Homo sapiens: one gene and its partner. The protein of the gene in region 1 purifies or fractionates together with the protein of each later gene. This does not show direct contact. Each region holds a gene or a part of one and is shown on either strand. Other genes may lie near its edges.

Region 1 (4,498 bases):
GCGTGGTGGCACGTGCCTGTAATCCCAGCTACTTGGGAGGCTGAGGCAGGAGAATTGCTTAAACCCGGGAGGCGGAGGTTGCAGTGAGCCAAGATCACACCACTGCACTCCAGCCTGGTAACAGAGCTAAGACTCCATCTCGAAAAAAAAAAAAAAAAAGAAAATGGTAGACACTTATACCACTTGGCATATGAATGCATGACAAGAGATTGACAGATTACTCTGAGCCTCATGGCTGGAGAGGTTAACTATCGTCTAGCTTATTCTTTACCCTCCCCTCCTCATAATATACATGCATACCATTAATTGTTCTTTTTTTTTTTTTTTTTTTTTAGAGACACAGTCTTGCTCTGTCACCCAGCCTGGAGTGCAGTGGCACAATCATGGCTCACTGCAGTCTTGACATCCTGGGCTCAAGTCATCCCCCTATCTCAGCCTCCTGAGTAGCTGGGATTACAGGCATGTGCCATCATGCTTGGTGGCTGTCTGCCGAGCTGGGATTAACTGCACACTTCATGTGCCAGCACCCCGGGCCCCCACCACACCATAGAGGGAATGGCCAATTGAGCTGCCCCAATATTAACTGGTTTCGGGGTTAGACTTCCTTGAAGTCCACTCATAAGCCACTCCTTGCACCCTCACCCCTGGTTAAAGAACTCTGGGTGTACTGAAGGCACTCCGAAAGCATAAATACCACTGAACAGCTGAATGAAACTAGGTATCAACACCCTGCCCCATGAGTATAAAAAAGATCATCAGTAAAGACAACCTGGGTGATTTCCTTTATGTTATTTACTTATTTATTTTTGAGACAGAGTTTTGCCCTTGTTGCCCAGGCTGGAGTGCAGTGGCGCGATCTCGGCTCACTGCAACCTCTGCCTCCTGGGTTCAAGTGATTCTCCTACCTCAGGCTCCTAAGTAGCTGGGATTACAGGCATCTACCATGCCCGGCTAATTTTTTGCATTTTTAGTAGAGATGGGGTTTCACCACGTTGGCCAGGCTGGTCTTGAACTCCTGACCTCAGGTGATCCACCTGCCTCGGCCTCCCAAAGTGCTAGGATTACAGGTGTGAGCCACCACGCCCTGCCAAAAACCTGGGTGATTTCCTAAAGAGGAGAATATCTCACACACCTCTTCCTGTGCTCCACTACGATGTTCATCCTCCCCATGCACCTGCCCCGCACCTACAGCCTGATATCTTCATCTTCTAGGAATTATCAGAACAGGCATGGGAAAGAGTGGGACAGGGAGAATGAAAAGCTCCAGACATGACCCAATTCCAGTTTTTTTTTTTTTTTTGAGATGGAGTTTCGCTCTTGTTGCCCAGGCTGGAGTGCAATGGCACGATCTCGGCTCACCGCAACCTCCGCCTCCCAGGTACAAGCGATTCTCCTGCCTCAGCCTCCCTAGTAGCTGGGATTACAGGCATGTGCCACCACGCCCAGCTAATTTTGTATTTTTAGTAGAGATGGGGTTTCTCCATGTTGGTCATGCTGGTCTCAAACTTCTGACCTCAGGTAATCCGCCCGCCTTGGCCTCTCAAAGTGCTGGGATTATAGATGTGAGCCCCCACGCCTGGCCCTGCTTTTTTTTTTTTTTAATTAATTTTTTTTTTTTGAGACAGAGCATTGCTCTGTTGCCCAGGCTGGAGTGCAGTGGTGCGATCTCTGCTCACTGCAACCTCCGCCTCGTGGGTTCAAGGGATTCTCCTGCCTCAGACTCCTGAGTAGCTGGGATTACAGGCACCTGCCACCACACCTGGCTAATTTTTGTATTTTTAGTAGAGACAGGGTTTCACCATGTTGGTCAGGCTGGTCTCGAGCTCCTGACCTGGTGATCCACCCACCTCAGCCTCCCAAAGTGCTGGGATTACAGGTGTGAGCCACCACGCCTGGCCACCCAATCCCAGTTCTGTACAGAGCCACCACAAGGCAATAATACTTCATCCAGCGCAAACAGCTCGGCTGGGATTCAGAATCCTTCTCCCTAGAATCTCCAGAGGATTACTGGCCTAACCTCTTGGCCACATCATCCAACCTGGACTCCATACTGGGAAATCTGCCAAGAACATCTCAACCTGGAGTCCAGAACATTCACTCCCAGCCCAGGCTGGCTCCAAAGACCCCAGGAAACCTTCATGTGCACACTAGTTTCATCTCTTGGCCAGTGACTTCCTACATAACTTTTTTTTTCTTTTCATTTTTTTTCTTGAGACAGGGTCTCATTCTGTCGCCCAGGCTGGAGTGCAATGGCGTGATCTCAGCTCACTGCAACGTTCATCTCCTGAGTTCAATGAGTTCAAGCGATTCTCCTGCCTCAGCTTTCTGAGTAGCTGGGATTACGGACGTGTGCCACCACGCCCAGGTAATTTTTTTTAGAAACCCCGTAGAGACAGGGTTTCTCCATGTTGGCCAGGCTGGTCTCAAACTCCTGACCTCAAATGATCCACCTGCCTCAGCCTCCCAAAGTGCTGGGATTACAGGCGTGAGCCACCGCGCCCAGCCCCTGCATAACCTTTGGAGATCCACAGGCCTCTCCTTTCAGTCACCGGATCCAGGCTCAGTCCAGAGACCCTTGATAAGCTCTCATTGTCCGGAGGCCATACCTCATGCAGAGTTAAGGACCTCCAACTTCCCCACAACACCCTTCCTACTCAGGCTGGCCTCGGGGGCCGTGGACCAACTCAGAGAGCAAGCTGGCTTAGCCTCTGCCAAACCTAGGCCTAAAGGTGGCCAGGAGGCTGCATTTCCAGCCTCTCAAAGGCAGAGGAAAGCCCCAAGGGCTAAAGCCCTCAACCCGCACTTCCCAATCATCAACGAGGTCCAGTCAAGCCCCCATACCCCAGATTTGCCTGGGCCGGGCCCAAGCCCAAGAAAGTAAAGTAAGAAAAACTATGGCACTCACCGGCCCAGACCCTGTTCCTCCTTCCCTTTCAGCCTCACATACACCCAGGACGGCTTAAGGCCGAGTGACCGTTAAAAGTGGGGAATGGAGCGAGGCCAGGGACGCAACGCTCCCGCACGTGGTCACCCCTGGATCCTGAGGCGGACGCTGATTGGCTGCAGCGCGGGCCGCATTCTCCCGCTCAGGCCAGCTGAGCACGCTGGGCAGCCTGGGAGGCACCTAGGACAGCGCCACTCCCGCGCGTCTGCCTCGGACCCGCAGCTGATTGGCTGTGAAGGGGCAGAGCCTTGAGTCTCATTGGTCCATAGGCTTCAGGCCTCTTAGGCTGAGATTTCATTGATTTCCAGCCGGGCCCCAGCGTTGATCTGCTGTGGAGTCTGCCTTTTCCCACTCTCTCCACGAAGAGACTGGACCCTGATTCTCCTTCACCTGAACAGCCCTGGAGGCTCCCTCAGCAAGTGCTCAGGAGTACTACTGTCCTTTTTTTTTTTTTTTTTTTTGAGACAGAGTCTCGCTCTGTCGCCCAGGCTGGAGTGCAGTGGCGCGATCTCTGCTCACTGCAAGCTCCGACTCCCGGGCTCACACCATTCTCCTGCCTTAGCCTCCCAAGTAGCTGGGACTACAGGCGCCCGCCATCACGCCCGGCTAATTTTTTGTACATTTAGTAGAGATGGGGTTTCACCATGTTAGCCAGGATGGTCTCGATCTCCTGACCTCGTGATCCACTCGCCTCGGCCTCCCAAAGTGCTGGGATTACAGGCGTGAGCCACCACGCCCGGCTTTTTAAAAAATTATTATTTCATTTTTATTTTATGAACGGGGTCTCCCTCTGTTGCCGGTGCTGGGGTGCAATGGTGCAATCATAGCTCACTGCAGCCTCGAACTCCTGGGCTCAAGCAATCCTTCCACCTGGGCCTCCCAAAATTCTGGAACTACAGCCGTGAGACACCGTGCCTGACCTGCCTTTCTTGCTTCTATTTTGCCACCCTAAGTAGCTCCCATTTGCAAACCCTGTCACCTTTCTCTCAACCCTTTACCATCTGTGAGGTGTGTAGGGGGTGTGTAGGCTGCCGCCACACCTGATTGGCTGGGAGGCCCGTAAGAGCAAGCCAAGGCCAGGCACGGTGGCTCATGCCCGTAATCCCAGGGCTTTGAGAGGTCCAGGTGGTAGTAGGATCGCTTGAGCCCAGGAGGTCGAGGCTGCAGTGAGCTATGATCACACCACTGCACTGCAGCCTGGGCGACACAGTGAGGCCCTGTCTCTAATAAATAAATAAAAATAAAATAAAAGAGCCAGCCAGGCAGGGCACGGTGGCTCACGCCTGAAAACCCAGCACTTTGGGAGGCCGAGGAGGGCGGATCACCTGGGGTCAGGAGTTCGAGATCAGCATGACCAACATGGTGAAACCCCGTCTCTACTAAAAATACAAAAATTAGCTGAGCGTGGTGGCGGGCGCCTGTAATTCCAGCTACTCGGCAGGCTGAGGCAGGGGAATCGCTTGAACCCCGGGAGGCGGAGATTGCAGGGAGCCTATATCGCGCCACTGCACTCCAGCCTGGGAGACAGAGCGAGACGGCGTCTCAAAAAAAAAA
Region 2 (3,718 bases), on another chromosome or scaffold:
GGTGACAGTGGTGCAAATGGTATGTGGTCTGAGTCTGGATGTATTATGAAGGAAGAAGCAACGGGACTTTCTGATGAATTAAACATGAAATACGTAAGAGATTATATAGTGTGGGCATTTGTCCCCTCCAAATCTCATGTCGAAATGTGATCCCCAGTGTTGGAAGAAGTGGGGCCTAGTGGAAGGTATTTGGATCATGGGGGTGGATTCTTCATCAATGGCTTGGTGCCCTCCCTATGGTAATGAGCGCATGTGAGATCCCATTGTTAAAGAGACAGGAACCTCCCCCAACTTTCTCTGGCTCCCTCTCTTTCCTGCTCCCGCTTCACCCTCTGCCATGAGCTAAAGCCTCCTGAGGCCTCAATCTCAGGTATTCCTTTACGGTAATGCAAAGTGGACCAACACAAAAGAGTCAAACATAACAAGATTTTAGGCCAGAACAAACAGAACAAAGAATTTACCAATATAAGTGAACTAACTTGCTTTAGAATTTAAAAAGTATTATATACATAAAGTAGTTCATTTTTTACCAGAGGACAGGTATTCAATAGATTAAAATCTCATTCCATTCTATCATGACATAAGGTATTTCATGATTTTTTACCAGATTTTAATTCTGCAACACTCACTAGTCAGATATCACTTTGCAACACTGGAAGTTTTCAATCAGAAAAGGTTTTATTATAAGAAACAATGACATCAGGTAAAAATGCAAAAAATTGTGCAATTATGGCAAAATGTTTAAAAATATCTACACATTTGCCCCCACAGGACTACAGTACTTACTACATACCTGAGCACTGAACATTGAATTCCATTTTAAACTGCTTTACATAGGGAATCTGATTCCTTCATGATCACATCCATTTGTTCTCATGACCAATAAAATCAGCTTGATGCTTAAGCATCAACTTTGTAGAACAGAAAACAAAGATGGAAAATAAAGAATACAATTTCTACTTTCCTATAACATAGTTATACCCAGTCCAGTTTTCAATGTGTGACAAATATATAGGAAAGTGCTACATACATTCTTCAAATGCAAAAACAAAGTTAAAGTGGAACTGGCATTATGTTAGACCTACATTTTAATTCTGTAGTACCCATTGTGCCTTTTACTTAAGGTCTTACCACACTATGAAAATGCACCTTAAATATCTAAATATAAACCCACACATGTCACTAATCTTACTTTTCTAGGACCTCTTCTGAATCCATTTTAACAGTGGCAAAATATCCCAGCTATATAATTTAAACAAATAGTTCTTCATACAAAATTCAATATATATTCTACTCCCATAACAAATCCTAAGCCTTGCTTTTGACACACTTAACTTAGATCGTACCCTCCATACAAATTGTCATAGCCAAAAGATCAACTGTTGTGCAGGCTAAAAGAATAAATCTACTGTTGAATTAGCCACAGTATGTCATTCTCTTATATAACATACAGCCCATGTAAATTGCTAACTCAATGTTCTATGTCATGTTTTCAAGTAATACATTTTTCTAAATACACAAGATTGTCAAAAAGCGGCAGGAAATCTTATTCAACAAAGCTTTCAAAAATAAATTACATGAACATCTCTTGCAAAAAAATTGTTTTTTCTCTCTCCTCAGCAATGCAAAACTGTAAAGAATGATTTCTAAAATACACAGTAATAACTCCAAAACATCATGATGATAAAAACAAAAACAAAACAGAAGATAAAACTGGGGAGGTAAAAATGTTGACAAAGTTTATACAGAGATTACAGACATACTATCAACACCAATAAGAAGAAACCACATATCTAGCTAAGACTAGATTTTAAAATGTTAATTCTAGAAATGCTGTCCATTTTAACTTCTGCTTCAGAAAACATTCCCTACTTGTAGAGGTCTATGTAAAGCAGTTTGGAAAGTTTCTGAAAAACGAGGTATGTGATGCAAAGAGGCAATGTTTTCAATTTGTTTCACAGTATCACATTACAATTTGTGCAAGATTTTTAAAATACGAACCATGCCAGTTTGCTTTCAAGTGAATACAAATATTGTGATTGAGGGCAAAATCTGTCCTATGCTTATACCCTTTACGAATTACTCTAGGCTTAGTAAAACATGTTACTGATCCAAATGCCTGCCTTAGGTATACAAATAAGTTGGTTTATCCTTCATGTTAATATTCCTAACTGATGATTGTTAGAAATTTCATCAGTTAAATGCAAAAAATGCTTTAGTACCTAGAAAGCTATGGTTCTGTTCACTCACTCTTTTCCTTTTCAATCACCTTCAGCTAGAAGGAGGATTCCAACGTAAAAGTATTCATCACTGTTAAGTGCAAAAATGGAAAAAAAAAATGAGGTTTTAATTGTAATATGAAACTTAAAGACATTAAATTAGACCACTGCAGGAATTTTGTTTCTGGAAAGCAGAATTTTAAAAGTAGGTATAAAACTTCACATTATGCTCTGTGCAGAAGAGAAATAAGTTACCTTTCCTTGTACCAATAATGAATGGACAGGTAGATGGAAGAGAAGGTTGGGCTACAAATGGCCCATGTTAGTGCAAACTGGGTATAATGTTCCTACTATTCTAAGATTGAGTCCAGTTAGATGAATAACTGGCCATACCCTCCTATCACATAAGTAGAGAATCTTGTGAAATCACAAGAGTTCAACAGGTAAAGTACTATGGCCATGAAATCCACACCAATTTGAAAGATAGGCATAGGCTCAGACCATTTAAATCCATCTAGTTATACACATGAATTAAGTTAGACTAGCACCAGCCACCTGTGAATATGAGCACTTTTCCAGATTTTCACAAAAGAGACAGTGTTAGCACTTGAAAAAGTCATCGACAGAAAACTGCCACTTTAAAACTTTAGCTTAACTTAAAATTACATGGGAAATGGAAACAATCAGACTAAAAGCTCTTTCTGAGACTAATTTTTTCTTCGATCTACTCTAATAATAGAACACATTTAAATCTCAGTACACTTGAAAACAGTACACAAAAATAGATACATATAAATATTAAGAATGAGGATCTAAGTTAGTGCTTCTCTGTGTTAGAGAGGTCACAGCTAAAGTCCTAGTGATATTGCCTCAGATTGTTACCCGTATTTAAAATTAAAAGTCACATCAAACAAGTTTAGACGTCTTTACCCAATAATACCCTAAATGCTCTTATAAGAGTGCATAGTTGTCCTGATTCATCTGGTACCTCAGTTACTATTTATCACAAAATTATAAAATGAAATGATTAATTTTATGCCAGGAAAAAAAAATGCTGATAATTGCACTTTGTTATCTTTTCCTTACTGAAATGAAATGTCACAAGGATGAAGGAAAATCCCTCCCTACCCTGCAATCTTTAAGCATACCCATTTTCCATGTATAAAACTCTCTCAGCTTTCTGAAATACTGTCAGCACTCTTTTGTATCAAAGACAAGTTTCCTAAGAATGAGATGCCAGTGATGCACTAAGGCCTGCTACTCATTTAGAGTACTTTCTGAAGACACTGAGGATACAGTTTAGCAACAGCACATTCAAAATGCCGGCCAAGGTCCCAGAGCCGATCTGGGGTCTCATACACTTTCATCCACTGGTCAGCAATGTCATCATATTGGTAAAGGGAATTTTTTCTGCTGGTTCTGAAGACGTGTTCTTCAACAGTCACTTGAGTAGCTCGAACAAATAAATGGAGTTTGTTCTGGAAAAGTACCAGTTTAAG

What was found.
Region 2: the proteins of ZBTB32 (region 1) and KBTBD8 purify together in Homo sapiens (co-immunoprecipitation; one large-scale study listed by IntAct). This does not show direct contact.

What each region holds. Positions count from the first base shown.
Region 1 is NC_000019.10:35,703,031-35,707,528, reverse strand, and holds the start of ZBTB32 (zinc finger and BTB domain-containing protein 32), read right to left. Parts: upstream 2,972-4,498; 5' UTR 2,906-2,971; intron 1-2,905. UniProt on the Homo sapiens protein: DNA-binding protein that binds to the to a 5'-TGTACAGTGT-3' core sequence. May function as a transcriptional transactivator and transcriptional repressor. Probably exerts its repressor effect by preventing GATA3 from binding to DNA.
Region 2 is NC_000003.12:67,008,152-67,011,869, reverse strand, and holds the end of KBTBD8 (kelch repeat and BTB domain-containing protein 8), read right to left. Parts: coding exon 3,485-3,718; 3' UTR 660-3,484; downstream 1-659. UniProt on the Homo sapiens protein: Substrate-specific adapter of a BCR (BTB-CUL3-RBX1) E3 ubiquitin ligase complex that acts as a regulator of neural crest specification.